Regions from separate parts of the Homo sapiens genome. Here regions 2 and 3 are each linked to region 1. The links come from fine-mapping of genetic effects on gene expression. A gene starts in region 1. Each other region holds a variant in brackets. All regions are shown on one strand. Distances are from middle to middle.

Evidence for each region. PIP is the estimated chance that this variant, and not a neighbour inherited with it, causes the effect.
Region 2: its variant is fine-mapped to the expression of PHYHIPL in gastroesophageal junction (GTEx, PIP above 0.99).
Region 3: its variant is fine-mapped to the expression of PHYHIPL in pancreas (GTEx, PIP 0.97).

The regions. Positions count from the first base shown.
Region 1 is chr10:59,169,074-59,179,767 of GRCh38, forward strand. It overlaps PHYHIPL (phytanoyl-CoA 2-hydroxylase interacting protein like), which reads left to right and starts at 7,570. Exons shown (of 5, transcript NM_032439.4): 1 at 7,570-7,886. The coding sequence starts at 7,781. It overlaps CCEPR (cervical carcinoma expressed PCNA regulatory lncRNA), which reads right to left and starts at 7,391. Exons shown (of 1, transcript NR_131782.1): 1 at 4,890-7,391.
Region 2 is chr10:58,977,296-58,987,989 of GRCh38, forward strand. No RefSeq gene overlaps it. Among named protein-coding and RNA genes, the nearest start is that of LINC00844, 17 kb to the right of the region's middle. The variant A/G (reference allele first, on the strand shown) is at 4,332.
Region 3 is chr10:58,996,312-59,007,005 of GRCh38, forward strand. It overlaps LINC00844 (long intergenic non-protein coding RNA 844), which reads left to right and starts at 3,207. Exons shown (of 2, transcript NR_108046.1): 1 at 3,207-3,476; 2 at 4,918-5,306. The variant G/A (reference allele first, on the strand shown) is at 5,897.

The DNA.
Region 1 (10,694 bases):
TGGGATCATTTTAAATTTTAAAAAATATTTTGACTGATAAAAATTACATGTATTTAGGATATACCTTTGGGTATATACCCAACAGAGGGATTGTTGGATCATGTATTATATTTTTAATTTTTGGAGGAACCCTCATACTGTTTTCTACAATGGCTGTACTAATTCACATTCTCACCAACAATGTGCAGGGTTTTCTTTGCTCCACAGCCTCTCCAACACTCGTTATCTTTTGTCTTGTCAATTAATAGCTCTTTTAACAGGTGTGAGGTAATATATTATGGTTTTAATTTAGATTTTTCTGACATTTAGTGATTTTGAGCATTTTTCATATACCTGTTGAACATTGGTACGTCTTCTTTTGACAAATGTCTATTTAAATCGGGCTGTTTTCATAAATCGGGACTGTTTCCAATTGAGTTGTTTGCGTTTGTTATATATTTTGGTTAGTAGCCCCTTTTAGGACGTATGGTCTGCAAACAATTTTTCCCCATTCCATAGGTTGTCTCTTCATTCTGTTTATTGTTTTCTTGGCTCTGCAGAAGCCTTTTAGTTTAATGTAATTTCATTTGTCTATTTTTGCTTTTGCTGTTTGTGTCTTTGGGTTTATGCCCCACCCCCCCCCGCAATTACCAATGTCATGAAGCTTTTCCCGTTTCCTCCTATTAGTTTTATAGTTTCAGGTATTTAAGTATTTAACTCATTTTTAGTTGATTTTTCTATGGTGTGAAATAAAGGTCTAATTTCATTTTTCCACATGTGGATATCCAGTTACCCCAAAACCATTTATTGAGGAGACTGTCCTTTCCTTATTGTGTGTTCTTGGCACCTTTGTCAAAAATCAGTTGACTAAATACATGGATTTATTTTGGGTCTCTATTCTGTTCCACTGGTCTATGTGTCCATTTAATGCCAGTAACATGCTGCTTTAATTACTCTAACTTTGTAATATAGTTTGAAATCAGGAACTGTGATGCCTCTGGCTTCGCTGTTGCTCAAGACTACTTTAGCTCTTCAGTTTGTGTGTGTGTGTGTGTGTGGTTTCATGTACATTTTAGGATTGTTTTTTCTATTTCTGTGAAACGCCTTTGGAATTTTGATAGAGATTGCATTGAGTCTGTAGGTTGCTTTGGACAGTGTGGATATTTTAACACTATTAATCTTTCCAATCTATCAAGGTGGGATATCTTTCCATTTACTTGTGTATTTTACAATTTGTTTCATCAATATTTTACAGTTTTCATTGTACAGATCTTTCATATCATCGGTTTAACTTACTTTAGGTATTTTATTCTTTTTGATGCTATTGTAAATGGAATTGTTTTCTTGATTTTCAAAAAGTTTGCTGTTTTGTTGCTGTTGTATAAAAACACCACTGATTTTTGTATGCCAACTTTGTATCCTGCACCTTTACTGAATTTTTAAGTTCTAAGAGTTTTTTGGTGGAGTCTTTATGATTTTCCATATATAAGATCATGTCATCTGCAAACAGAGATAATTTTTCTTCCTTTCCTATTTGCATGCCTTTTTTCATTTTCTTGCCTAATTGTTCTGGCTAGGATTTCCAGTAATATGTTGAATAGAAGTGGTGGGAATGGGCATTCTTATTTTATTCTTGATCTTAGAAGAAAAGCTTTCAATATTTTTTTTTTTTTTTGCGACGGAGTCTCGTTCTGTTGCCCAGGCTAGAGTGCAGTGGCGTGATCTCAGCTCACTGCAAGCTTCGCCTTCTGGGTTCAGGAGCCATTCTCCTGCCTCAGCCTCCTGAGTAGCTGGGACTACAGGCGTCCACCACCACGTCCAGCTAATTTTTTGTATTTTTAGTAGAGACGGGGTTTCACCGTGTTAGCCAGGATGGTCTCGATCTCCTGGCCTTGTGATCCACCCACCTCAGCCTCCCAAAGTGCTGGGATTACAGGCATGAACCACCAAAAGCTTTCAATTTTTCACGATTAAGCATGATATTAGCTATGGGCTTGCCATACATAGTCTTTACTGTGTTGAGATGCATTCCTTCAATGCCTAATTTGTTAACGGTTTTTATCTTGAAAAGATGTTAAACATTGTTGACTTCCTTTTCTGCATTTACTGATATGATCATATGGTTTTTGTCCTATAGTCTGTTAATATGGTATATCATATTTATTTATTTGTATGTTAAATCATCCTTGTGTTTTAAAATCCTCAATACATTAAACCATAAAGATAGTCTAAATATGAAAGTTCTCAGTTTTTAAGAAGTTATGAAACTATTTCCATAAATTTGTACTGTAAAATTAACCAAATATGCTTTCTTAATGTCGTTTTGGTGTCCTACAGTAATAATATCCTAACTTTTGGGGGTGCTTTATAGTTCGTAATAATACTTTTATATGCATTATGTTACTTGATCTTCACAAGTCCCAATACTTCTTGAGTCAGGACAAACAATTTAGAATATTTGGATTGCTTTCAACTGTGTTTCTATTGATTATGAGTTTTCCTTTGCCCTTCCATTTACAATAGGGCTTAGGAAAAGTTTCCATAGTGTTATGAGAGGAAATAAGATGCACTCATTTATTATGCATTTTGTGGAGTTTGTTTCTGTTTGGTTTTGGTTCTTGGCACCCTCTGCGAGTCATAAAATCCTTAGTTGTGCCAGGGGTTGTGGGTCATTTTATTATGAATAAGATAGACCTATGGACTAGCCTACCAAAAGGACTGTGTAGCCTACTTTGATAAAATCCTAGGCTAGCTGGAGCAATATAACTAAATACATTCGAAGTATCGGAGTTCACTAAAATAATTCAGCAAATTGTCCTAAGTATCTTCTCTTTGCAAATACTATAATATGTGCTTAAAATCTACAGTATCACAGGAGAAATAAGAAATGTTCACAGAAGTGATACAGGATTTTTATGTCTTTGCAAGCTCAGAATATGTGAGCAGAGCGATATTATTGTCAAAAAAACTAATGGGCTCCTGGGCTGCATTACAAGATGTCTGGCACACACAACAAAGATGGTGTTACTCTACTGTGCTTTCTTTTATATTCTTATTATATTTCCACACCTGGTGTGTTTACCTATGGACTCAGAAAAATTGGAGTTATCTAGAAGAGAGTGTGTAGAGTGACAGAGGGACTCAAAACAATGGGATATCACAAACATTTGCAAAAACCGTGAGTATTTAGGCAGATATTTGAATATATATGTATAATAGGAAGGATTATTATTCTGTATCACGAACAAATCGGAAAATTAAGGCCTTTGTAGTGCTCTTATAGGAGATATGTTTGGGCTCAGAATGCGAAAGACTTTGGATAACTTCATGAGGATTTTAATTTAATATTTATTAGGAGATAAATAACTTCTTGTCAAGGGCTTTGACATTGGATAAGGTATTGAATTAGATATATTTAAGTCCCTAAAATTTGATTCTGATTCTTCATGTACATTAATAACTTATAAATCATAACATGATGTCTGTAACAGAACTATAAAGCCCCACAGAAATACAACATAAAGGTTTTTGACAGAGGGAATCATTTCAAAAGAATGTAGCATACGAGTTGGGGCTCGGATGATTGGTAGGATTTTGATTGTAATAGCAGACATCTCAAGCTAATGATTAAGTGATGTTGAGTGTATGGGGATTGCAACTACACTGCAATTTAGGTACAAAAAGGTAGAATTTTCATTTTGTCTAAACTGATTCGATCATCTTCATGAAATCTCAGTCACTGACAAACGGGAGGGGAAATAATGTGTTTTTATTCTAACCCAGAAACCTGGGTTCATTCAGTATTTTAAGCAGTTCCTTAAAGTTCAAGTTTATTACGTTAAGACCCTCAGTCTCTAAGATTTCCACCTTTCCCCTACATCCTATTTTAGATAGTATCTGGAAATATCAGATATCCCTAGATACCATTACCTGAGGCATTGGGACAAAGGGTCATTTGGTTTGAACAGGTTCTTCTGCCTCCTCTGGTCTCTGAGGTGACATTCCTCATATGTCTAGTTGCTTCTGGTCTTTCACTTGAAGTTGGTAGCTAGAGAAACTCATGGTCTGTGCTTCAGGGCCTTGCGGCCATCTCTGACGGACGGGTCTCAACTCTTTGGTACTTTAGACATCCCTGGTCTAGAAGGTCCACTCCATAGCCTTTGCTAAAGTGTCACCTTGCTCTTTTAACAAAAAACTTCAGGGAAGATTGGATAGCTCTCAACTCAACCACGTTCTGAGTACTGTTGGAGCCAAGAGAACACTTCCGCTTAGCCCTCTGAAGGTTAGGTGAAAATTACTGACAAGAGGCAGATGAAGAGGAGAAAAGGCATACAAATTTATTTGATCATAGCTTTACATGAAATTTGAACACCACATTTCCAACATAAGCCTTCAGAATGAAGACCAAAGACACAGGGAAAATTGACCATTTTAATCCTTAGGTTCAACAAGGTATGAACAGTCATGAAGAAATATGACTGGACAAAAGGGATATGACCTAATACTAATAGATTGAGTAGGGAAACCCAGAAAGGCCTGTCTGTCTAGATTCTTCTTGACCTGTCTGAGCATGCACTTCTTCCTTTTGGCTATGTGGCAGGGCCCTCTCTGGAATGAGGATCTTATGACCTTCAGTTAAACAAGGTAGGTAAGATAATTTCTTTATGGCCAGTTTTTACACAGAAAAGCAGAAGAAAAATTAGAGTAATATTTTCAGATTTTATGGCTGGCTTTGGGGAAAAGGAATTGTGGTTTCTATAACCCACGTTGGGGAACAGGGATTCTAGTTTCTTATAGCTAGCCTCAGGGGAAAATGAGACTGAGAGGCTGAAGGTCAGAAGATGAGAGGAAAAACTTTTACTTCTGAGGTTTTTTTTTTTTTTTTTTTTTTTTTTTTTTTTTTTTTTTGGGGAGGAGGGGAGTATTGTTTTCTGAGTCTCAACAGTACATAGAAACTTACAGCACTCTGGAAAGTCAATGCCTACCCTGTCTCCGCCCTGTTCAAGGTTACTGGAATGTGGTTCCTGCTCAGCCTGATATCTTCCCAGATATCTGAGAATTGGGAAAGTAATTTCTCTGTCCTTGAGTTTTCCCACACCAATCTGGATATTTCTAAAGCCACAACCCCTCACCCTACATCTTCAGGGTGGGAACAGTAAAAATGTTTCTGGTGTCTTTCTTGAGCTCTTCTACCCCTTTCCCGTAATTCTCCAAGCCAAAGAGAATAGGATTTTCTTCTACTTTACCTACTTCATAGCCACCACCTTCCTTATATCAATCTCTGACTAAATCCTTCATACTGGACTAAGATACCTTGTCTTTACTATGGGAGAAACCCTATCATTTGGTCCACCAGGCCTAGCCTTGATATGTTGAACCATAAACAAATTTACATTTTATGTCTTGACAATGCCTCGATTTGAAGCCTAAAAACTCGATTTAAAAAATCCTATATTTAATATCGAAAGTTAAAAAGTAAATATTTCTTTTGTATTTTTTATACAAGAATCCAAATCCTCAGCAGAAAGGTGCCTTGGATTGATTAAGTTGTATACCCAGAAAGTGACATTAATACACTTCTTGAAACATTACCCTTTCCGATTACACAAATATTCTAGCCGACAAATCTGATCATGCTAATTTCCTATTTAAAGCCTTTTTAATAATTTCTCATTCCCTTAAGATAAAATCATTTTGGAGATCTTCCTGACCATCTAACCTAGGTTATAAACCTCGTGCGTGCTTCTACAAGCTCCCATACTTCCTCTTTCTTAACACCCATCCTACTTTTACTTTTTCAATATATATCTTTCTTGATAAATTTGAACTCCAAATTTTCAACACATAGCACAGTGTCCTGGACATAGGTGCTTCATAAATATTTGCATGAGTTTGAATTAAATGCATGTCGTATTTCTTACTTGAAAATCAGTAAATTGTTATTCTAGTTTACACAGTTCCTTTTTTTTGAGATTTATAAATTTGAGACTACTCTAAAAAATGAACCCACTGTTGGGCTTACAATACCAATTTCTAGTTCTACAGAGCCAGGCTTTCGAACACAGAAAATTCACCAGTAAGTACTTTCTTGTCATATCCTTTGACAGGTAATAATTTACCCTCTCCTTGGGGACACCCCTACCTTAAGACAAGAATTCTTTCAAACTTCAAAAACATCCATCTTCATTAATAAGTTCATAATGAAGACTTTTCACTTTAAGATGCCTAATTATCTTTCACAGATATTTATGAAATTTCAATTGTGCCAAGATTTTTCACAGGCTTATTTTACTTTAAGCTGGTCCTTCCATTTATTGAAGCTTCAATTAATTAGACTTCATCATGTTATAGCTAAATGGATGTGACTAGAAAGAGCAGCATACAGACATCTATGTGTAAACTGTTACTTGTTGGTTAACATTTATGTTTGAAATGGAAAATCAATAAAAGGGAACTTATATTAATTTATAAGCACATTAAGAAAAGAGGGGACACTATTTTTGATCCCAAGATAGCAACAAAACTAAAAACTTTTCCAAAGAAGCAAACGGGAACAGAGGTCAATAGGCTGTGACCTCTATTTTATGTTTAAAACGTTTGCACATCCACTAAGTGCACTGCAGAATCTTAAATGCAATTAAAATCAATGGGCATACAAGTTATAGAGTAGCTTGAGGAAGCACAAGTCAATCTTCATTAGCTATTGTAGCAAAGATTCCTTCCAAATCCATGGGAGCAGGTGCTGTTTATACTCCCTTCATTGACGCCCAGAACAATGGCATAGGGTGAGCATTGAATACTTATTTGCTACGCGCATGAATGAATGAAGCTACGCTGCGAAGGCAGACTGCGTGGCTGCTGGTCCCGTGGCTGCTGGCCCCGCAGCATGTCTGCCGCCTTTTCAGCAGGCTTGCTGCATCTCCTCATTCCCTCACCTTTCTGGCAGTAAGGAGTTCCCACGTTTGCCCCGCTTCAGTGTCGTGGACTGGCAAAATGCTGTCTCTAAACCCCTCCACGCCTCAGGTAATCCGCTCATTTCTCACACAGACGCAGCTGTTTCCGAGGAATGTCCGGCCGAGCCCGCAGGGTGCGGGCAGCGAGTATCCTGGGACCTTCAGGGGAGGAGGTGGCTCCCACACCCCAATACCGTACAGAGAGTCCGAAGAGTCCGGGCCCTTATTTTTCCAATTCTTGGTAAACAACAAACATGCTCGCCCTCGCCTCCCCGTGCAGACGCCTCAGGGCCAACTCGGGCTTCGCCAGGCACCGAGAGCAGACAGAAGACGCCAAATGGCTATCACCAGGAGAGAGGGCGAGGCAGCCGCGCGGCGTATAGCGCTCGCCCTTCCCGCGCGCTCGGTCGCCCGACGCCTCACGCGCGAGGTTGCCTTGGCAGTGGCTGGAGGGCAGGTGGGGGCGCGTGCGCGCAGAAGGGCGGGGGAGGGACCACCGCGCGCCAGCAGGTGGGCGCGTTCTCCCGCGCGCGTGCGCGCGTCGAAGCCCTATACATCACGTTCCCCGAGAGCAGCGTCCCCTCCCCGCCGGGAGCGCGCGCCTCCCATCCTCGCGCCGGGTCCTGCTCGGTCTCTCAGAGCCGCACACTCCGCGGAGCTCCTGCCACAGCCGTCGCCTTCGCGGCGGCTCTCCAGCCCCGCGCCTCAGCCTCGGCGCCGCATCACCGCGTCCCAGGCCTCCTTCCCTCCCTCTGCCACTCCCCCTCCCTTTCCCGCTCTTCTTGCCCACCCGGCCGGCAGAGAGAGCCTGGATACGAAGCAGGCGGGCTTCAGAGTGGGTTGGAAAAATGGAGGTGCCGCGCCTGGATCATGCCCTCAACAGCCCCACCAGCCCCTGTGAGGAGGTGATCAAAAACCTCAGCCTGGAGGCCATTCAGCTGTGCGACCGGGACGGTAAGAGCGGCCGGGACCGCGAGGAAAGGGACAGAGTTCGCGCCGAGGCGCCGGGGCCACTCTGGCTCCGCCGACGCCGCTCGCCAGGGCGGCAGGGTCTTTTGTTGTCCCCTCTGTGCAAATAAATGCAGATGTGGGTTACCCTCCGCCCACCGCCCTCCCCTCACCCCAGAAACAAAAGGACCCCGGGGCTCGCGCCTTGGCGCGGAAAGTAGCCGTCCACAACCGTGGCGCCCTTCGCCGCCTTCGCCCGCCTGGCCCGGACGAGGGCGACGTTCCCGCTCGCGGCTCCTGCCCCGACGAGGCGTTTCCGATCTTTGCCGCAGTCCGGATTTCCTGGGTCTCTGGGCACTGAAGGGGAAATGCCCTCGGGATGTTTCTAGCAACCCCCTTCCCCCAACACACACACACTAGTTGGCATTCTCTTCCAGAAACTTATCATTTTCTTTTTTAAACCTCCCATCCTCAGACTCCCCAAATTAACAAGTCTTTTTAGCCTCTTGGATTGGGATTAGGATGACAGTTTTTCAGTGAGGGCGCAGAAAAACAGTGCATTTCAGCACCAAGGACAGACACAATCTTCATGGTTCCTGGGCTCTGAGTCAGACTGTCGAAAATATTGGCCTAATATATGTGCTGTGATTCAGACTTTGTGGCGAGTACGTACCATTGCGTGTTGATATTATATCGTTTATTCTGTTGTTGAAGTTGGCAGGCTCCTGTGGAAGGAAATTGATTGAATACAGGTCTGAGCGTTGAAGACATAAGCTAGTGCTGTGTGCGGTGTGGTTAGTTACAGTGCTTCTGGGTTAGCTGGACTAGTTAGAGTCTGCTACTTTAGTAATGTGGTACAAAACTTCATTTGTAAAGAAATCATTTGATTAGTAATTGGTTGGCCGAATAATTGTAAAATTCTACATCTGACAAAGGAAACACAGTTCACATGTTGTTAAGAGGGCCCCAAATACTTTTGACTGTAAATGAAATTAATGTTTAACTGTATATAGAGGTAATGATTGTAAAACATGTCTTTAACCAAAGTTATGTACAGATACTAATACGCTCACAGTAAGGTCATAAAATTTATCAGCCTAATCCAAATAGGGAGCAGAGGTCTTGTTTCCAAAGTCATTTAAATGGTAATCACTTGGTTACGCATTGCTATTCAGCACGTTTATATCAAGCAAGCACCGAATTTGTTTATTACTAAATTTTATATTTATTAATATAAATTTATATTTAATAATTTTGAAACCAGAATTCAAACTTTTTGAAACCAAAACCACTTTAATTTCTGATACAGGTGTAGTATATGAATAAATAAATACGTTTGCAAAGACAGCTTGTATTTCCTTTATTCTTAGACTGTTTTAGTCACCATGGTAGTAAGTGCACATATTTATGGTATCTAAAAACATTTATCATTTTGGTATTCCATATGTAAGCTTGCATGATTATAGACTGTAAAGATTATTTTTAATAACGCATAGGAAGTCATTTGGATTTTAGTTTAGACTTTTATGAAATGACTTTTTGTAATGTAACCATTGCAAGTTGTAAATATTTTTATTTTCTTAGGGTTGAGAGAAACACAAGACTAATAAAAGTAGACTTCATTTTTATTTATTGCAATGATAAAGCAAAAGCTCATTCTTGTACTCAATGGAATTAGGCATTCATTGTTGCTCTTCAGAACCCAGTAATCTCAATACTTAAAACCGCATTTACCACGTGTTTCAAAGATATTAGGGAAAATTTAAACTTTTTAATGAAGTTCACAGAGTTAAGAGAGTGCAAAAAATAATGCTGTATTTACTGTGATCCCCTAGAGGAGTAGCTATTTTATTCTGGTATTATTTTTTAGTTGTTTCTTTTCAAATTAGGAATCCCACAAAATGAACAAATTATGTAACATTTAATTTTGGGGAGGGTGCTGGCACTAAGTAACATCTATGAAAATTACTATTTGCAGACTTCCAAGTAATTTACATAGACTAATTAAATAGGGTTTTATTTTATAAAATAGTATACACCAACAAATACAAAGAGCTAACTCTTCTACTAGAAGATGTATAAAATTTGGAAATACTTTGTTTAGAGATGTTGTTAAATGCTTAACTTATTTTGTTATCCTATCTTACATGTCAATTCCAAAAATATTAACTTGGTTGGCTTCAAAGGGATAATTTAGGGGGAATAATGTCGTTTGTTTTTAATAGAACAGCATATGAAATGTTGCATTAAATTTGTCAAACAGACCTTACTTAGCATCATTTTGTATTGAGAGATTTTCAGCTAGTTGCTTTTTACTCCCTTTGCTTCCCTCCTTTCACTTTCTTTCCACTCAAGTCTCGTTATTTTACTTCTGTAACTATGTAACATAGAAAAGGATGTGGCAGAATATGGGACAGAAGATCTATTTTGTGTTTAAGTACCTAATAAGAGCTATATTTCATAATTTATGATAGAATACATTTATTTTGTTTGCTCTTTTCTCACTTTCTTTTAATCTACTGTTAATTTGGTGATGAAAAAAAATGAGAGAAACATTAATTCCCTGGAAGTGGAATAAAATAGAATAGGGGAAAGTATAGTTATGTTCTCCAATCAGAGATATTTTTAATTTTATAATGTTTTCATACTGTATCAACCAAGAGTTATGCCTGCTGGTGAACATAACTGTATATCTCTCTTATGTTTCATTGGATTTTTTTGTTTTTGTTTTTGTCTGTCACTTGCCTATTTTCCTATGAATTGATGATTACATTATAAACAATAATTCAATTTTTTTCATAGTTTCTAAAAATA
Region 2 (10,694 bases), 190 kb before region 1:
GAGCTAATGTATTGCATAGGGAGTATAGTTAGTATTGTATTCTAGAAATTTGCAAAGAAAGTAGATTTTAAGTGTTCTTACTACACACATAAAATGTTAATTAGCTTGACTGCAGTAATTTCCTATGTATATGTATTAATATATCAAAACATCACAATTTACACCTTAAAAATACAATTTTAATAAAAATTTTTTAAAAAAATAACTTGTTTATTCAACAAATACTTATTAAGCACCTATCATATGTGTTCAGGCGCTGCTTTATTTTATTATTTATTAATTTTTTTGAGGGAGGGTCTCGCTCTGTTGCCAAGGATGGAGTGTAATGGTGCACTCGCTGCTCACTGCAGCCTTGACTTCCTGGGCTCAAGCAATCCTCTTCCTGAGTAGCTGGGACTAAAGGCATGTATCATGTGCATAGCTTTTTTTTTTTTTTTTTTTTTTTTTTTTTTTTTTTTTTGGTAGAGATAGCTGTTGTCATGTTGCTGGGGCTGGTCTCAAGCTCCTGGGCTCAAGTGATCCTCCCACCTTGGCCTCCCAAAGGGTTAGGATTATAGGTATAAGCCACCATGCCTGGCCTCTAGACTGTTTTGAATATTGTGCTAGGAGAACAGCCATGAACAAGACGGACAAAATTTTTGCCATTGCTGAGCCTACATATTAGTGGAGGAAGGTAGGAAATAAACAAATACATGTATATTAATTTCAGGTAGCAATAAATGCTGTGAACAAAATAAGCAGGTTAAGGAGATAAAGAGTGATATGGAGTGGAATTATCTTACACAGGGTGAGCAGGGAAGATGTCTCTGAGGAGGAGGCCATAATCACAGAATTTTAAATGAAATAAAGGAGTGAGTCAGGTGAGTGACCGATGGAAAGAATTAGCAAATCAGCCATGATTTGGTAGATTGTTTTGTTTTTCTGGGAATTTTCCATTACCTATAAAATTATATCAGTGGATGCAAATTTATTTGGCTAGAAGTAAAGTTGATCTTGAATGTGAGATTAGGGCTAGAGGAAAAAGGAAACCAGGGTTTGCTGAGCACTTACTATGTGCCGGGGCTATACTCCCTGCTTTAAACAGGTTTGTTATGTCCTCTAATGCAGCAGTCCCCAACCTTTCTGGCACCAGAGACTGGTTTTGTGGAAGACGATTTTTCCACAGACTGGGAGGCGGGGATGGTTTCAGGATGAAACTGTTTCATCTCAGATGATCAGGCATTATTAGTTAGAGTCGCATAAGGAGCGGGCAACCTCGATCCCTCGCATGCGCAGTTCACAATGCGGGGGGGTGGGGGGGTGGGGGGGGGGACGCACTCCTGTGAGAATCCAATGCTGCCACTGATCTGACGGGAGGTGGAGCTCAGGCGGTAATTCCGCAGGCCTGCCGCTCACTTCCTGCTGTGCGACCTGGATCCTAATGGGCCACGGACAGGTACCAGTTCATGGCCCGGGATTTGGGGACCCCTGCTTTGATGAACCAACCAATCACGCTGTCATTTCTCATAACAGCCCAATGAAGTTATTACTCTCCCAATGGGAAAACTGAGCCTTGAGAATTTTCAGCAACTTACCCCAAGATAGTTAGAGGCTGAAATGAAATTTTCCACCTATCTCTGGTAAGCTCTCCAGATAGTGCCAAAACACAACAGGACTATGTCCTGAAAAAGCAGTTCCCTTGCCCTTCATTAAATCTTTAAAAGGTATTAGCCCTCGTGTGGTCACTGAGGATGTATCCAAAAGCTCGAAACCTAAATTCTTCACCTACAACAAGCGTGGATTTCACCAACCTGAACTTGACCTTAACTTATAAGCAGAGAACTGCCCATACCTAGATTCACCCAGGGGAGATCTGGGATGCAGGCTTGATATTTTACCAACATTTCAGTTCCAGTATTCAGGGGCTCAAAGAATTTCAGCTCTTCTGCTTTGTGGGGAGCTTTCAGATCAGTTAGTGATTTTTTGAATGTGTAGTTTAATGGCAGATTGACAACATATGGGTTTTTGGCCACTTGTAGGAGGCATAACTACAAAGAAATATCACCTTTTAAAAGCTGTTCTTAATCCAGGTGCAGTGGCATGTGCTTGCAGTCCTGGCTGCTCAGGAGGCCAAGGTGGGAGGATTCCTTGATTCCAAGAGTTTGAGCTCAGCCTGGGCAATATAGAAAAATTATTGTTTAAACAAACTTACAAGGACATAATTGTAAAAAAGAGGGAGGGTCAACTAAGGAAACTATACTTATTTAAGATGCTGAAATATTTTGTTAAGAAAGGGCATTACTTGAGACACTTCTATGTGCTGTTAAACCTTTTATATTTAATCTATGAGGTGGGTAATTTTATTCCCTGTACACAGATGAGAAATCCGAGACTTAGAAGTATTTTAAGTCACTTAACATTAGCCATCTAGCAAACTTAGATTTCAGCCCATCTGTCCAGATGTGCCAAAGCCTGTGTTATTTCAACTAAAGTGATTATCTCCGTTAGAATTTACTTTCAGAATTGGCAGCATGTTCATTCAAGTAACTCCACTGGTAGCAGCTGATCATCCAAGGTAGATTTAATATTGGAGAGTCAAGTTCATTTGAAGTCAAGACCGAGTGGATGATCACATTGCATGATGTCATTTTGTTACTTTGACTAGAAAAAAAAATGAGAGAGAAAGTCAGAACGACCTCTCATTCATCCTGCTTTCCTGTAGCCACAAATATTTTGTTTTACACAGTCAATCAGTGGGGTTGTTTTTAATGTAAAATTATTTGTTGAAATGTAACACAGTGATCTATCACCAATGACCTATACTAGCATTAACTTATTGGGCAGATTTTTCTGTTAGTGAGGAGAATCTGGAAAGAATAGGATACAGGACAGATGAGTTTTGTTGGTGGGGTTAGGATGCAGGAAGGTCAAGATTTAAGGGACTACTTGTGGGAGGGAGAATGGGGGTCCTGGGGGCTGGGGTGTGAGGGTGAAGAATAGAGAGGCTGGGGGTGGGGCAGAGGTTGAGAAGATTGGGGAGTGGAAGTGGGCAGTGTGGCAGCAATAGAAACCTGAGATACAGGATTAGACTCTGAAATGGTGCAGAAGGGGAGAGAATAGGCATAGGAAGCCTGCTTAATAGTCTTAGGAAAGACAAGCACTCTGGGAGTAAAATATAATAAAATGTTACATAAAATTATACTTCCAGGAACCACTTAGTGACTTGGAAGAGGTCATAGTAACCTCGTTTGCCTCAGGGAGAGCTGAATATTTTTCTCACTCGATTCACCATGGAATTAACTCCAGCTAAAATATAAACCCCTCTGGTTTTTTTTGAAAACTTTAATCACCTCCCTTATTCAAATGGAGTTGTGGCTATTGTGAAATGATGACCTACCTTTAACCCTATCCATCACCAATTACCAGCAAAGGCAAAGTAATTAATAAATGTATGAATATGCTTTAATTTATTCAGGCTACTCAGCTTCATGAGATAGAGACATGAGAGCTTATCTGTTCAGTTAAATGTTTACTGAGAGCAAGTAAGTAAGTGTTAAATCACGGAATTTTAAAAACATACATGTGGAAACATGCATATCTTACCTTCAGTAGGGGATATTTCTCAGGATTGGAACTTCAATACCACAGCCACACTCATTTATGTATCTATTAAAAGCAGCACCAATTTTAATGAGGCACCTAGAATGTTATAAAATGCCCGTGTATAATTAATTCAAAATGCTCTGTGATTAAATCACATAATGACGCTTTGTGAGCATACATCAGCTTAATTGGGAGTAACGTAACTAAGAGATTGAGATCCAGAGTGCTGTAAATAAAAAAGCTGCTTGGGGCTCCTGCAGTGTAAATTTAGATCATCAGGAAATCTTGCAAAGGCCCCAAGGCTTGTTGTGGGTTAGCGGCCTCTCTCTGCTATGTGAAGACAACAGAAAGATTACTGAGTCTCCTAACTGGAAGGCCTGGTGCAGGTTTTGCGATTACTCCAGTATTTGCAGGGAGAGGACTTGTATGTCAGCTGACTCAGTACTCAATAAGCTCCTCTAGGTTTGCAGTGGAGGAATGGGTATAGCACAGTCAGAGGCCCCTTGAGGTTGAGACATTTCACTTTTCACTGTAGTGAAAAGAGTTCTGCATTTGAAGTATAACATATTTGACCTCAATAATTTTAGTTTCCTTATTTGTAAAATGGCCAAAATAAGACTTGCTTTGTAGAAGTTTTTGAGGATGGTCGGGGGTGGCGGGGGGGAACAACTCATGGAGTATCTGACACAGTGCCTGGCACATAGGAGGTATCAAATGCCATTGGTTTTCCCATGCCCCCAGCACAGAGT[A/G]TCCTGAACATTGTAAGAACAATAGATCATTGCTGATGTGACTGAAATGTGCCCATTGAGATGAATTCCCCAAAGGGGTGGCCTATATTTCTAGTCAAAGACTGAAGGAACAAATGAAACTGAAATCTGTATTAAGACACAGTCAGGCTATGGCAATGGAGAAAACTGGAAAAACATCACAAGGTCAATAGCAGTAGCAGCTCAACTACTGCTTTCCCATGAAGCGAACCCAAAACAGAGGACAGAAAAACAGACATGTGGCATTAGTTCTGCCATCTCTCCTTGTCATGCTCATGCACCATTACTAACTGATCACAGACGTCTGCCCTCTCTACTCAGATGGGTCCTCAGACCCCTAACACAGCGTTCAGGCAGGCATTCATAATCGGTTTAGCATTGGCACTCGTGACAATGCCTATTTACTATTCTTGACAGAAGAATGCAGCCCATGGCCTGCCTGACCCTATCAGTTGAATAACAAAAGGAGAACAATTACTCCCTCGTCTGTCACCTTTCTGAATCCATCCTAGAGTAAGAGAGAAAAGAGCTCTGTTCCTTTCTCTTTGTAGAGTGATTTTCAGTCTGTGGGTTATTCCTTACACTTGATATTTGGATACCACTTTATAGTTTAGATATATTTTAAGGAATACTTAATCCTGACAATGACCATGGGTGAGAGGTAGGTCACATATTACCCTCACTCTACATAGGAGAAAAACCAAAGCTCTGAGGAGCTAAAGAACTTAATCTAAGCTGAACTTATCCTGTAATTTGCATAGATGGAACTTGAAGATTGGAATGTTCATCTCCAAAATCTGGTAATTATTTGGATTACTCAGTAATTTGCTACAATTACTGAGTAGTCTCAGGGAGAAGACTATGAATAGTGAGCGTACACAAATGCATCATAGAGGAGACTTAGCAGGACCCTGTCCTAGGCGAGATACTACCAGCAATTGTACACAAGTGCAGCTTTGAGGGCACACCAAACAGTGGTAGCAGGAATCAGGCATAGGAAAGAGACCACTATGACTGGCATGGGAGGTGATGCAGGGAAGCTGGAGTGTATTAGGAAATGAGCAGGCCAGGAAGCTGGGCCCTCCAAGGGAACACTTCAAATGCCAGGCAAAACACATTACATCACTTTTTTCTTTATTGAGCTATAATCTGTGATTTTGTCTAAACCCTTTGTCTAAACCCTTCTTGTTCTGAGCTCCAACAATTTAGTTTGTCAAATAAGGTTACTGTCTAAATTTTTTTTGCCTTAGTCCTAAAAAAATACCTTTTAAGATTCAGGGTCTGAAAGAGAAACCTGATATTCTTAAATTGGCAAATATGTCTGTATCCTTTCCTCCTACTCCCCTTGTGACTTTCTATACTGCTTTATCTTGGGGCCATCCATTGATCTTTCCTAGAAAAGAGAATACTGAATACATATTTAACACACAAAAATCAATAAGGCTCATACATATGAATCTCAGCAAGTTAAATTTTATAATGGAAGAAAACATATTTTTGCAACCATCAAAGAAAAAACATGAAATAACTAAAAACTAGGCTTAAACAACAAATGTGCAAGATTTGTGTAAAGAACGTTTTTAAATGTTAATGAGAGATTCAAAATATGAATTGACCAAATGAAAACATACTTTATTTTTAGAAAGACTCATAAATATATCAGTTTTCCTTCATTTAATGTAGGCAGTTAATATAATTATAATTAAAAGAGTACCAGGATTTTTTTTTTTATTTTTTTGAGACAGAGTCTTGCTATGTGGCTCAGGCTGGAGTGCTGTGGCACTCTCTTAGCTCACTGCAACCTCTGCCTCTTAGGTTCAAGTGATTCTCCTGCCTCAGCCTCCTGAGTGGCTGAGACTACAGGCATGCACCACCACACCTGGCTAGTCTTTGTATTTATTAGTAGAGATGGAGTTTCACCATGTTGGCCAGGCTAGTCTTGAACTTCTGACCTCAGGATGGTCCATCCACCTCAGCCTCCCAAAGTGCTGGGATTACAGGCATGAGCCACAATGCCTCAAGAATTTTTTATTAGAGCTAGATAAACTGATAGAAAGCTCATATGTAAGAACTAGGAAGAAATAATGGCCAGGGAAAACTGTGAAATAGAAAAGTATTGAATGAGATATAATTGTATTGGATAATAAACTATGAAAAGATAGAAGTTAAAATAGTGTGGTACTGGCATATCAATAGACAGACAAATTAATGGGCTACAATTCAGTCCAGAAATACATCCAAATATATACATATTTAGTCTACAATAAAAGTGGCATTGCTGATCAGTGGCATAAAATGGATTGTTCAGTAAACATTTTTTAAAAAGTAGAGAAAGAAAAGGAAAGAAATCAGAGAAGTGCTAGAAGAAAACGTGTGTGTGTGTGTGTGTGGTGTGGTGTGTGTGTGTGTGTGTGTGTGTTTATGGAGAGAGAGAGAGAGAGAGAGTTTTCCTGTAACGCCCAGGCTGGTCTCAAACACTTGGGCTCAAGCCATCCTCCCGCCTCAGCCTCCTGAGTATCTGGAACTGCAGGCACCATACCACCATGTCTGGCTAATTTTTTTTTTTTTTTTTACAGATGGGATTTTGCTATGTTTCCCGGGCTGGTCTTGAACTGCTGGCTTCAAGCAGTCCTCCCATGTAGCTGGGACTATAGGCACAAGCCACTGTGCCCAGCTTATATACACTGTAGAGAGTGGAAAGCCTTGCTAACTATGACATAAAATCCAGTGATTATAAAAGCTATCAATACATTTATTTAAATAATGTTTTAATCTTCAGGAAAAAAATAACAAATAATGTTAAAATGGGCATCTAAGGAAAAGTATTCACATTATATATAAAAGAGAACAGACTCATTTTCCTAATTTATTAGATATAAGAAAATATAAGAAAAACTAAAAGTTCAGTAGAAAAATTGGAAAATAATGAAGAAATAATTCATAGGAAGATACAGAATTTTTAAACATATGAAAAAGTCCAGTCTCATTACAATAGAAATGGAAATTAAAACTCTAGTGATAGTTCATATCCACATATCAGAATGACAAGATAAAATAGTTTCATATTGCATTGCATTAGTGAGGATATGAGGAGTAGTCCATTTTAGACATCAGGGATGAGATAGTGAACAATAAAATTCTTTGGAAGATAATTTGCAATATTTTTCAAAATTATAAATGCATATTCCCTTTATCTCAAAGATTCTACTTCTAAGAGTTTGTCCTACACATATACTAGTGCATATGGATACAAAATATGTAGAAACATTCATTTCATGATTGTTTATAGTAGTAAAATATTTAAGCAACCTAAATGTTCATCAGTATAGTACTGGTTAATTAAACTTGGTATGTGCATATAATAAAATACTGTGTAGCTATTAAAATTTAAATGTAATGAGTTTTAAACATTAGCTTTGTTTTGAAAGCAAGGTCTCCTTTCTTCTAGGCAAAATCTCAAAAAGTTGTCAGGAGGATGGAAGGGACTATGAGTGGTGACTTCTCTCTCCAGTTAAATTCATTATAATAAAGAATAATTCAATAGAAGGATAATTCACTAAATTTTAGACAGGCAGAGTGAATAGATTGTGGCTGCCCTTTAATGTACATCACTGAAAGTGAAAAAGGGAGGACATAAAAGATAGTTTTTCAGAAAAGTATGTTACGGATAGGCATGTTTCTGGAAAATCTCTAAGGGGACACAAATGGAAAGTCCCTAGATTCAATTTGTGCAAGATGCTACGTGACTGTGACCCAGATGTAGAATGAGAGGGACTGCCTTGGTATGCTGTAGCAAAACATCAGATCCAGGACCCCAGGAAGTAGGTCTAGGGGCCATGGCTTACTGAGTAACACTTGCCTCACCTGCTGGCCTAAGATACTTCTGGGTGCTGATAAGAGTGGGAGGAGGGGCAGAAGTAAAAGTCTGGGAGCTCTTTTCAGGAGCTTCTTAGCTTTGGCCGATTCCTCACCCCTCACTACTGTCACCACCCTGGAAGCATCCCTGTGAGGAACAGAGAGGGGACACTGTGGATCCATATTTGTGCAGCTATATCTGTTGACTACACTAAGGATTCTCAACCCTGTCTGCCCATGGGGAATCACTTGGGTTAGTGATAAGATTTGCCAGTGTTTAGCCTCCTCCACCAAGTGGTTCTAATCTAAATGGTCGAGGGTGGGACCAGGCATCGATGTTTGTTAAATGTTTCCCCAAGTGATTCTACTGTGCAGCCAGGTCTGAGAAGCATGGGACTGTGCTCTTCTGATATCTTTTTATTTACTTGTTTTTAATACTCAATAATGTTTGTGAGTAGAAATGTTTGGTGTTTGTGAGTTTTAGTTCTGCTATTCCTCAAGCTCATTTCGGTCTCTCACAAGGCTTAAGATGGAGAAAGAGGCAAAGAGAGGGAGAGAGAATCATTGGAGGAAAAGTCTGAAACAGAATGAAAAATAAATGGGGAGATAAATTGAAAGGGAAATGCTGAATTCTTCACTTCAAACTCACTCCAGAATCTTTGAGCATAGGATCTAAAAGTTTGCAGTTTACACACTTCTCAGCTGAGTTTTATGCACACTTGAAGTTGGAAAGTTCTGATCTATTGGGAGATACATTAACAATACAATTAATGACAGAAAAAAAGGGATTGGTGCCAACTGGTGAAGGGTGATGGGACAGAGGGATCATTGTCAAGGAGATTCAGACTATGCAGAAGAATAGGCTGCTTGGATTTTGCACAAACAACCTATGAAATTGGGGGCTTTATGTGAAAATCAAAACCTAACTGCATCCACTTTTCAATGGCAAATGTACCTGAGTTGGGCATTTAGAATGAAATTTATCAGTGACACCAATCATTGGATTTAGAGTCCACCATAATCTGGTATGATTTCATCCTAATTTCATGAAATTTTCAAAGATCCTATTTCCAAAGGTTGAATTCACAGGTACCAAACTTAAGATTTTGTAGGGGCAGGAAAATGTGATAACTTTCCTCACCCATTATAAGGGTCATAGCTGACATTCCTTTAACAAAAGGCAGATTAACAACAAAAAAAATGCATAACAAATTCATTTAATCAAAGTTTTACACAACAAAAGAGACTTCTGAAATTATGACCAAAAGACCCAGGGAAAACTGTTTTTATGCTTAGTTTTGATGAAGAATGGACAGCCATGTAGAAATGTGATTGGGCAAAAGGGTATGATCTAATGGTAATAAACTGAGGTGGAGAACCTAGCAAGGCCCGTCCAGATTCTTCTCAGCCTCTCTGAATAGCATTCTCTTTCTACCCAGGTATGGGGCAGAACCCCTCTAGAATGAAAGTCTTCAAGGAAGAAAGGAGAAGAGAGAGACCTTTTTAGGTTTTATGGCTTGCTTTAGGAGAAAAGGGTTCCAGTTTTTATGACCCACCTTGGAGAAGAGAAATTCTAGTTTCTATGACTTGCTTCAGAGGTGAAAGAGAGGCTGTAAACAGGAGGGCAGGAGAAGGTCAGAGAGACCTTGCTTCTGAGGCCCTTCCAGTGTCCTAAAGTTTGAAGTACTCAGCATGCTGAAGTGCTATACTTCGGGTCTTCTTGTTCTGAGCTCCAACAACTTCAACATATCTGTGTGGGGGACACAATTCAACCTTTACTGACACTTTGTTCAAAGCTACCTTCGTTTTGCTTAAAGCTGTTTTTGCCCAGAAGACCAGCAGCAGCCACACCATCAAGACCCATTTTTTCCTACTTCTTCATTTACAGACCTATAAATGATTCTAGAGCTGTACTTCCACTTTGGCAAAAGTATAGCTAAGACAGAAGGGATGGTGACACAGCATCGCTTTCTCTATCACTAGACTGATATGCATTAAATTACACTGACAAGACAGATGCCCTGGGAGCAAAGGACCAGTGTGTAGAGAGAGAGAAAAACAAAAGTAGCAATCAAAGTACAGGTGAAGACAGTTCCTCATTTTAGAGCTTTTTCCTGCCCATATATTGGAATACTTATTTGACCATAAGAAGTTATTTGTCTTCACATCAGTTTGTTTTGTCCAAAGTACCTGAACATCAATGTAAGAAAGCACAGAATTCCAGAGAGACAGACAAAGTGGCCTCTTATGAACACTTTGATCTGTTTTTTTTTTTTCCTGTTAAATTGTTGTAAGAGAACTCCCCAAATCAAGTTTCAAGCTAATTGCTTTTAAGTCCTTGTAAATGCTCAAAACAAAGAAACATCTTTGCCGTTTGGTCAGTGACGAGGAATAGACTGAGTTCTTACTCGATGAGTTTTTATTTCCATTGGAAATTGCAGGCATAATGCATTTTAAGTAGACAGCTCTAATTCCTGGTTGTTAATGAAG
Region 3 (10,694 bases), 170 kb before region 1:
AAAATTGGAGCTGGTATTCAATGGTATAGAGTTTCAGTTTTGCAAGATGAAACGTTCTAGAGATCTGTTGCACGACAATGCTAATATATTGCTATTTAACAATACTGAACTGTACACTTAAAAATGGTTAAGATGGTAAATTTTATGTTGTGTGTTCTTTACCACAATTTCAAAAAAGAAGACTAAGAAGTGTTCAAATGCCAGTTTCATGACTATCTGTGTGAGACTGAGGATACTTAGGAGCCTAGTTTTCCTCACTGGTAAAATCGGGGTTATGATTCCTAACTCATTACATAAGGTTAAATGAGATGTAGTACATACAGTGTCAACAGTACTTCCTACTAGTAGAATCTCAATAAAAGCTAGTGCTCTTTTCCCTATCACTCTTCCCCAACACTTTGCCCATTGCTTAGGTAGCAGATTTTATCTTCTTATGGGATATTTTTCCAGGAAGATTAAAAATACTCTGGGTAGTACCTAGTTCTGGGTGCTGAGAGGAGTAGTGACGGAATGTCAAGAGTGCCCCCATGTAGGCTTCTGGGTGAGGAGACAAGAAAGGAAGTGTGTGAGCATACAGTAACATACACACACAATCACACACTCACACAAATCAATTAAGCAGAGTGCAAGACAGGTACATTAACAATTACTAAACCCAGAACCTTAGACAATCAGTACTCCAGATGTTTACAGAAGTGAGAGAGCAGAGTAAGCTGGATCAGTGCTTTTCAAACTTGAAAGTGCAATCAAATTCCCTGGGGAGCTTGTTAGAATGCAGATTCTGATTTCGTAGATCTGGGGGTGGGGCCCGAGATTCTGTATTTCTAATAGGTTTCTGGTCTACTTTGTTTATTCATGCATTTATGAATTCACTATTGACTCTGTCATGTGCCATGTATTTTACTATAAAGGAGGAATAAAACAATGATGAAAATATAGCCTTTCTTTCAAAAAAGATAACAGACAGGTAAAGTAAAGATTAAAATACAGAATGGTAAGTGGTAGAAATATTCCCAGGGTTCTATCGGAGCCCAGAGGCATGAGATACAGATTGAATGCTTCATGACGACTGGATAGGAGTTTAAGGGCAGTTCAATAGCATGCCCTTCAATAGGATGGGAGTGTTCAATAGCATTTTTAAGATTGTCGTGATAGGACCAAAGCAAAGGGTCTGGGAAGAAGAGTGGAGAGAGAGAAAGAGCTGGACAGTGGTCAGCGGCCAAGTTGTAAAGATTCTTGTGTGCCAAGCCAAGGTGTTGACACAACATTCTGAAAGCTAAAGTGACCTGTGCAAGGAAATCCAGAGGGAGCTCAGAGGGTCCCATCTCAAGATGGTGTGTTCTCAGCCTTGATCTTTCTATAAGTGACTATACCAGCTCCTGTCTAGGACCTAAGCTCTTGACAATGTTTTACCTGATTGAGTGTCCACCTCTTTCTTCTACCCCAAACATGTGAGCCACATTTCTTCTACTCTATGGTTTTCTTTAGAAGAGGTTAGTAATGCACAATGAAACAAAACTAATTTGTCCAAAGCAGAGCCCTTCAGAAGTTAAGAGAAGTTCCAGCAACCTTGAGTATTCGAGTCTCCTGGTTTATTTAAAAAATAAAACAGGCCAGAATAAAGTGATGACATTTACAGAATATTTTAAATATTTTCATTAAATAAATGAAAACTTTTGTCACAGTAAGTATGTTGCAAGAGAGTGTTATTTTAAAGATAATTATCATTTTATAAACATTAAAGTACATTAGAACCAGAATGGGGCATAAGATTAATGCCTGCTTTTAATTCTGTATCTTCGTGGTTTTATATATATAACCTAATTTGAAAGCAAGAAAAGTGAAAAGGTGAAGACTTTTGTAAATGTGAGGCTGGCTGTAACCGTCTCTGCCCCTTTTCTCCCTCCCTACCTACCTAACAGTCCCTGATCTAGGAATTTTGGAGATTCTGTTTTTCTTTTCTAATTATTGGAGAAAGCACTACAATGCACAGAGCACTAGATTTCATAGAGAAAAGCAATTGAAGGGTAGGCAAGGTGACCAAGTACCAAATATCAGTGACTTTTAAAGACCACCTTGAGAGCCAAAGAACCCGCTGTGTTGCTCCAACCTGATGCCAACATGGACACATGCAGCAGAATGACAAAAACCACCGCAGAGGAAACAGGCATGTCAGCAAGTAAGAGACAGACTGGCGAGTCCTCTATTATCACCCCTCTTTTTTTTGTTGGCTTAGTGGAAGATTTCCTGATTTGAAAAGACAAGTTTATTTTTGAGACAATGAAACACAAATGAATGTGCAAAGAAAAGGCATATCTGGCTAGGCACGGTGGCTCACGCCTATAATTCCAGCACTTTGGGAGGCTGAGGTGGGCGGATTATGAGCTCAAGAGATCAAGACCATCCTGGCCAACATGGTGAAACCCCATCTTTACTAAAAATACAAAAATTAGCTGGGCGTGGTGGCGCATGCCTGTAGTCCCAGCTACTCATGAGGCTGAGGCAGGAGAATCACTTGAACCCGGGAGGCGGAGGTTGCATGCAATGAGCCGAGATTGCACCACTGTACTCCAGCCTGGCGACAGAACGAGACTCCGTCTCAAAAAAAAAAAAAAAAAAAAAAAAAAAAAAAAAAAAAGAAAAGAAAAAAGCATATCTGCCAGCCAAGAATCAGTTTTCAGCTTAAAACACAATAATACAGACCAAATTTAGCTCCTGTTCCCTGAACCAGTGGCAAAAGCAGCTAGTGCACGTGCCCAGGAAGCCACATGCAGCATGTTTATCCCACTATCCAGCTCTGTGGTGCTTTACTGGTTCTACACGTTAGGATTACAGATCCTTGTAGGAATAGCTTCTGCGCTTTAATGATTTCTTAAGAAAAAATAAAACAAGATCTAGATCATAGACTCCCATCAGAGAGCTTACTGGGAGAAAGAGCTGTATCGTGAATTATGAAGATTAAAGGGGCATCCAACAAGGGGAAAAATTAAACTATTATCTCGTTACTTTGGTAAATTAAAATTGCCAGGCCTAGGCAAAGATCTGACTGGCCAGAGTGAATTTTGGAGTGAAATTTTATGGTTATGTCTTTTAAAAGCCATGTAAATCAGCAAGCGTAAAGCTGACAGGACCTTGCAGGCTTCAGCAAGAACACACTGTCCCTCTCATTTATTTAAAAGAATGCTGCCCCTGCTCAAAGGCCTGCAGTGAGCCATGCCAATGTGGTTTGGCTGGACTGTGAGTGCTTGATGCAGTCTGATAGGAGGATGGGGGTGGCGCAGAGAACATTGAAATCAGAAAGGATTCTGCTCTGTAGAGACAAAGGAAACACAGAGACATAGACATGGATCTGGGAAATACACCTTTTGCTACTCGTTCAGTTTTAGCAAGGAGGTTTCTTGCATGGCTAAGCAAAACTTAAACTTCCTCTGAGAATTACAGGAATTACAGGACCTGACAAAGCTATGAAGATTAAAGTAAGTTAAATTGACTACTTTGACCAGTCTATGATTAAATGCCCTATATAGGATGTAGAGACAGGTGTCTGGTTCAGAAGAGGAAGGGAAGATTGGAAACTGGTTGGAGTAAGAACTGAGCCTGTGGACTATGAGAATGTCAGAGCAGAAAGGGCTTTAGAGTGAATCTGGATACCCTCATTTATATAGATGTGGCAATGGAAGGAGACCCCAGGTGATTTTCTTAGGGTCACACGGTGATACCTTGTTGTGATGAATATATACAGCTAGTAGAACTTTTGATTAATGTGAGTGCGGCAGATTTATTGCAACAGGGGCTCCAATTCTTTTCTTCTCTCTATCCAAGCACCATGGGATGTAACTTTGTAGCTCCTCCCATCAAGAAGTCTACTCAAGAGGTCTCATTGAGGTCTACTTCCTGTACCTCCAAACCTGGGTTGGCTTTGAGACTTGCTTTGGTTAGTAGAATGCAGCAGATGTGATGCTATGCAGTCCCAGGCCTACGCCTCAAAAGCTGTGCTTGCTTCTGCTCCTTCTCTTGACCTTTGCCTCTATTAGCCCTGACTAGCCTGCTGAAGGGACAGAGACCACAGGCACAGAGCTGAGGTGTGCCAGCTGAGGCCATCTGAAACATGGGAGAGAGAGATGGCTATGGTCAAAGAAATGCTCAGCCAGGCCTGACCAAGATCAACAGAACCCACCAGCTAACTGTGAATGTGAGAACAGTAAGAATGGCTGCTGTTTTAAGCCTCTTAAGTTTTGGAGGTGGTTGTTTGCAACATTCTTGTGGCAACACTTGGCTAGTCAGTGGTGCTATAATGAGAGGTTGGTCACTGAGAGGAGAAAGAGGGAGCAGGATAATCCCTGGCATGGTAGGTCTTGCAGTTTCCATCATGGAGTATGGTGGCCAATTTAAGAAAGAAACTGTCCTGGAAACAGATCCCAGAAAAATCTCCTCACTGTGATTGTGGCATTGTGCTGTCTAAATGCCAGACAATCCTGAAGGGTTTGTATCATCACTTCCTAAATTAGAAATGATCCTAGGGCTCTTCCAATTCTGATTTTATAGAAAAGGAAGCAGAGGCTGCGCAGTGTTAAGGCAAGACTAGCTGCTTAAGTTAATGGGCCCAACACAAAACAAAACTGTGGAGTCCCTTGTTAAAAAATTACTAAGATGGTGACAGCAGGGCCTTAAACTAAGCACAAAGCCCTTTTAAGTATGGGACTCTGTGAGACCGCACAGATCTTATGCCCATGAAGCTGACCCAGATTTAGGCAATTTGTCCAAGGACATCACTTCGGAAGATTCATCCATCAGGCTATTCTTTACCCAAAAATGTAACTTGGTATATTTGTTAACTGCTAGTTCAAGAAGCAGGGCAGGAACCTAAGGCCTCTAGTTCCCACTCCAGTGATTCTTCTTTTTTTTTGTTTTTGACAGACCTATAGGAAGAAAATCTGAACCAGAAACAGTATGGCAGAATTGGGATCTGACTCACAGAGGGAAGAACTTATAATTCTTCACAGGTCACATAGAAGCATGAGAATTTGGGTTCAAGCAAGTAAATTCTAAATCAGAATCCATACATAAAGTGTTTGCAATGTCCAGTTATATCTCCATGATATTTTCTTTGTGGAAGTTGATTGTTCTTCCTTACAATAAATTGCTTGAATTGTCTGTCTATTCATTTAGCTATTTCTTTTCTTGTCTTTGCGATATTTTTTTTTGTAAGTAAAAAATTTTCAGACTAAATAACAGGGTGTAATTTTTTGCTTTGTTTCTCCTAAGTTTTGTCTTGTTTATGACATTAATAATTTTCTAAAATCTCTGATTTCTTTTCTGTAGAATGCTTGAAAAATGACAGCTCAATATGCACATTACCCCATCCCTAACCACCTTCGTCACTACTTTGAATACTCTTCTCTCACCCGACACTGCAGTTAAATATGATTGGAATCCTTGTTTCTATAGTAAACCAGTCTACTTTATTTTATGGATGATTAATTTAAAAAATTAAACTCTGGGCTTCCTTCAGGTTTTCTAAGGTTTTTCCCACTGGCTTATAATGGAAAATTCAAAAAGGGCCTCTCAGGTAACAGAGACAAGTTTGTAGATTTAAAAAAAAATTCCTTTAGAAAAGACAAGGTTTCTGTGACCTCCTTTTTGTGAGACAATGAAAGTGACAAGACAAGATCTTAAATAATAAAGTTAAAGCCATCAGTAAAGGCAAAAGTCAAAGATGTGAAACATCTGTGAGAACACACGTAAAAGCTAGTGGGGATATCTCGAGGAACAGAGCTCAGTTTTGCATCAAAGTTCAGGCCAACTGAACACCAAGGCTTGATGGCAGCCAGAGTCTTGCTGTGTAGAGTCTGGTTGCTTTCTGAATGGACACGGATTCTTGCTTTGAAGATTACTT[G/A]TTAACTCACCAAACACACCCAGCCCAGCTACCTGCATCATTCCTTTGTCAAGGTTCCCACCTACCTGGCCCAGCTGCAGGTGAAGGCCAGATTCTCAGGGTATTTTACCCATCCCCACTTCTTCTCTTTTAAAAATCACTATTCTGAATTTACAGTTGGCCAATGACCTCTAACTGGATTAATAAAATGTCTAATTTAGTTTGGAACATTGAGCTTCTGTTTCACTTTGGCTTGTTCAGGTTTTTATTAAATCAGAATAAATTTTCATAGTCCCCATGGAAATGCCAGCCTTCTCCATTAAGTTGGCAAAACATTTCCATTTCCAAAGAAGTATTAAAACCTGTTTCCGGCCAGGCATGGTGGCTCACGCCTGTAATCCCAGCACTTTGGAAGGCCAAGGCGGGCAGATCACAAGGTCAGGATATCAAGACCATCCTGGCCAACACGGTGAAACCCCATCTCTACTAAAAATACAAAAAATTAGCTAGGCATGGTGGCACGTGCCTGTAATCCCAGCTACTAGGGAGGCCGAGGCAGGAGAATCGCTTGAACCAGGGAGGCAGAGGTTGCAGTTAGCCAAGATTACAGCACTGCACTCCAGCCTGGCGACAGAACGAGACTCTGTCTCAAACCACCACCCCACCCCACCCCCCCAAAAAAAACCCCTGTTTCCAGAGAAGGTCCTGTATTGGTCAGGACTGGTCAAATAAACATGGGTCATAATAATCATGACGTCCTGTCCTGGTTTTTATCTTTTGGGTATGGTTTGTCTTTTGCTACTTGGTGTTTCTACCCAATCTATTTCATATCTGTTTCCCGCGTTTCTCTTGTATATTTCAGCCCAAACACCAAAGCTGTGATCCATTTTTAGTTTCCAAGGTCACATTGGCACAGAAATCTTTCTGCAGGCATCCCTTGAGGAAAACACCAAACTACAACTTTCTGCCCTTAAGCTAAAGGCTGTATAAGCCTCTAGCTTCTTGCCTTCTGTTCAGCTGGGGATTTTTCTCTTCCTTTTTTATTCACTCTTTTTCCATTTCCTTCTCTTGGCACCAGGTACCCCAGATTCCTTTCTCTTGCTCTCTCCTGCTTTCTTTCATTTGACCCTGAAAGCCAAAATGCTGATAAGCTCCCTTCCTTTGCCTCATTAAAAAATTGCCATAAAATTTATAGCTGACTTAGGCCAACCATCGCTGATCTTCTTGATTTAGTTACTGCCAAGAAGTGTTTTATGATCATCCACTGACTTATTTACAACAAACCCAATGAAGTCCTTGGTATTAGGAGCCTGTATAGATATTACTTGTTTGGAAAATAGGGTGGGTACTTAGGTACTTGAATTTCTCTGTGTAGGCTGGGGTGGTTTGGGTTGTTTTGCTTATGCATTTCATATGGAAAGGCATAATCCCAAGCCTTCATATGTAATAACATGGACTCATTGTGCTGCTGTGTGGCAAATGTATACAGCCCTGAGACAGCACAGGAAATTTTCCAATACTTCTCTAAGCATTAGTTTCAGGAGGCCATTTGTGAGGCTGGTAAGAGAAAACAAATTGTGTTGGTCATAATAAAATTGTCCGTTGGTGGAAACTGTTTGAATACCTCAACGTAATGAGGTTAATTGATTATACAAAAGTGATTTAGAGGCTGATGTAATAACCACCTGTTTTGAGTCTGCTATTTGAAAGACGGGTCAGGGCAGGAATAAATTAAATGTTTGCAACATTTGAATTGTGTTGATTGTTCAGTTGTGTATTTAGAATATGTGAAAGGGATCTGTTCCCCCTGTAATCCCTGATGCTGTTGTTGGTCACAACATAAATTTAAGGTGTTCAATAGTACCAAAGCTCTTTAACGGGTGAGGCTTTGTCCTGAGTAAAACAGTGTAATTACCTGGAACAGATCCATAAAGAAGAGTTGTAATGCATGTTTCCAAAGAGAAATCCTGACTGTATTTTTTGGAAAGTGAACCCTAAAACAATGGTGCCAGGAATTACTCGAACACTTCATTGTCATAGAAGAAATCTGATGTCTGAGGAACAGTTGTAATAATCTGCCTTCTCTGTTTGCTTCCCCCAACCTGGCTAAGGATTGACTTAGGGTCTGGGGTGGTGGCAATAAAGATTAAGTGTCTGCAACTGCACTACTGATTACTATATGTTCCTTTGCTGAGGCCACTGCTATTTTCTAAAGAGTTGCTAGTGGAGAAGAGCCTGGTGATGAAGGTAGAAAAATAAAGACTCACTTCTTTAAGTTTAAAGTGTACTTCACCCAATAAATACAGAAGCCAGAAAAAGGAGTGATCATAGCAGGCAAATCTGACACAGCACTGTTAGAGAAGTGCCACTTGGTAAGTCAGGAACTGTGGTTGCATAAACTATGTATAAACCGAGGCCCCACATGACCTAGCCTCTACATAATGCTCCATGAAAAAGCACAGTCAAGAAACCAGTCATTACAACTGAAACCTGCTCTTTACTTTGATCTCTTAAAGATTGTGATAGTAGATCCATTTATAATCCATGGTAAAACACCTTTCAAAACTTTTTTTTTTTTTTTTTTAGAGACAGGGTCTCACTCTGTTGCCCAGGCTGGAGTGCAGTGGCATGATCATAGCTCACTGCAACTGCAAACTCTTGGCTTCAAGCAATCCTCCCACCTCAGCCTCTGAAAGTGCTGAGATTACAGGCATGTGCCACCATGCCCTGGCTCCCAAACTGCCTTTGCTTCCTTTCTTGTTTCTCAGACTCCAAAGCTGCTCCAGAGACTCTCACATGCCAAATCCTAAAACACTTTCTCACAGAACATGTGGCCCATGTGGGCTTTTGTTCTTCACCCAACTTCTTCAGTTTGCAGGTCTACTCTACCTGGCTGTTTTTGTTTGGTTTTGCTTTGTTTTTTCTGTCCTTTTGTTTGTTTTCTTTAACGTGGTCTGCCTATTCTTACAAAAAGCTTAGGAATTAGTTTGGCAAAATTCTCTTAGAGGGCAAGGCAGGGACAAATGAAGAATCTGAGTAGATAAAGACAAAGTCCTCTTATTAGGGGGAGTTGGGTCAGGAGTCTCAAATTACTGCCATGTTAAGATGTTTTGTCCCTTAATACTGTCACAATTAATAGTAAAAGTCAACATTTATTAGTAGTTAATATGTTGCATTCATTTTTCTAAGTGTTTTTACATAAATTATGTCATAACTAATTTTATCTCGCAAATTTGTAATATCACCATATGAATAAGGAAAGTGTAGTTTACAGAAGTTGAGTGATTTGCCCAAGGTTACAGGGCTGGATAATGGCAGAAGTAGGACTTCCCAGCCTCAGTCTCCTTCCAAAGCCCACTTTTATTTTATTTTATTTTATTTTTTTTGAGACAGTCTTCCTCTGTCACCCAGGCTGGAGTGCAATGGCACGATCTTGGCTTACTGCAACCTCTGCCCCCCTGGTTTAAGAAATTCTCCTGCCTCAGCCACCTGAGTAGCTGGGATTACAGGTTTGCACCACCACACCTGGTTAATTTTTGTATTTTTAGTAGAGACGGGGCTTCAGCATGTTGGCCAGGCTGGTCTCAAACTCCTGGCCTCAAGCAATCCTCCCGCCCCCACCTCCCGAAGTGCTGGGATTACAGGTGTGAGCCACTGTGCCCGACCTCAAAGACCACATTCTTAATCATCATAACTTTTAGGTATCAGCATTCTCCAGTGGCTGAGGTTACACTGAGAATAAAGTGATCATTGAAACACACTAATACTGTTCAGATATAAGAAATATAATTGTCTCTATCCTTTCATAATACTTTCTTTTTACATAATTTTTCAGCTAAATGTACCATTTTTGACCCATATCTGTAATGACATACGGATTACCAAATGTTAGACACTTGTCTACAAATTAGTACTGAAATTTTCCAACTATAAATGCTTGTGATTTGGAGGGGAAATTCAATTTTTAAATTTCTCTCTCTTTTTTTTTTATTATTTACTGTTTTGCACACAAAAGATCAGAGGAAATTCTATGGTTCACAGTTATAATTTTGAGACTGTTTCTTCATCTCCACTCTGTCTCATCTGTGAAGCTGGAGGGAGGAAGGATTTAGGAGAGAGATTAGGAGCTCGTCAGAGCATGACAGTCATGAGTGGTACCCAGAGTGTGGGAATGACCTCTAAACACAGTTGCCAGCTCTACTGTCAAAAATATCACCTCAAAAAATTATCTTTGCATAAATTTCTACTTTTTGAACAAATTTCCCTTTTGGTATAAATGTTTCCTGCTATCTTTGTATCCTGATTGAAAGTGAAATGCTATGCCTCTGAGGAGATTCATCATTACCCTTTGGAAGATAGGCCCTAAATCACACTTCCCACTTTTCTCTTTTTGGCATATGCCTTCAACCTGGAGTGTATGTCTTGAGTCACTTTCGTTTTCAGCATCTGGAAGCTGTGTTAAGTCACCATCTTCAAGTCTCCTGACTCATAAATCACGTGTCAACTCCCTTGGCTGCTGGTCAGTTCAATTTCTGTTAAAATTTGAGCTTGAGTTAGTTATTTGAAGGACATGGAAACAGAGCAAAAAAAAGAGGCAGAATGCAGGGCTGTGACCTAACATCTGGAGACCTTGGCCTTCTGGGTTAAAACAAACACTGGAGCTACAAAAGAATCATTCTGTCACCTGACCCCAATTCCTTGACCTTGTTACAGAAAAGGTTTATGTAATTATTGCAAGACATCTACATATCCCTACATAGATGGAAAACAATAATACATCTTATACATACATATACTATTCATTTTTCACATGTAAGTA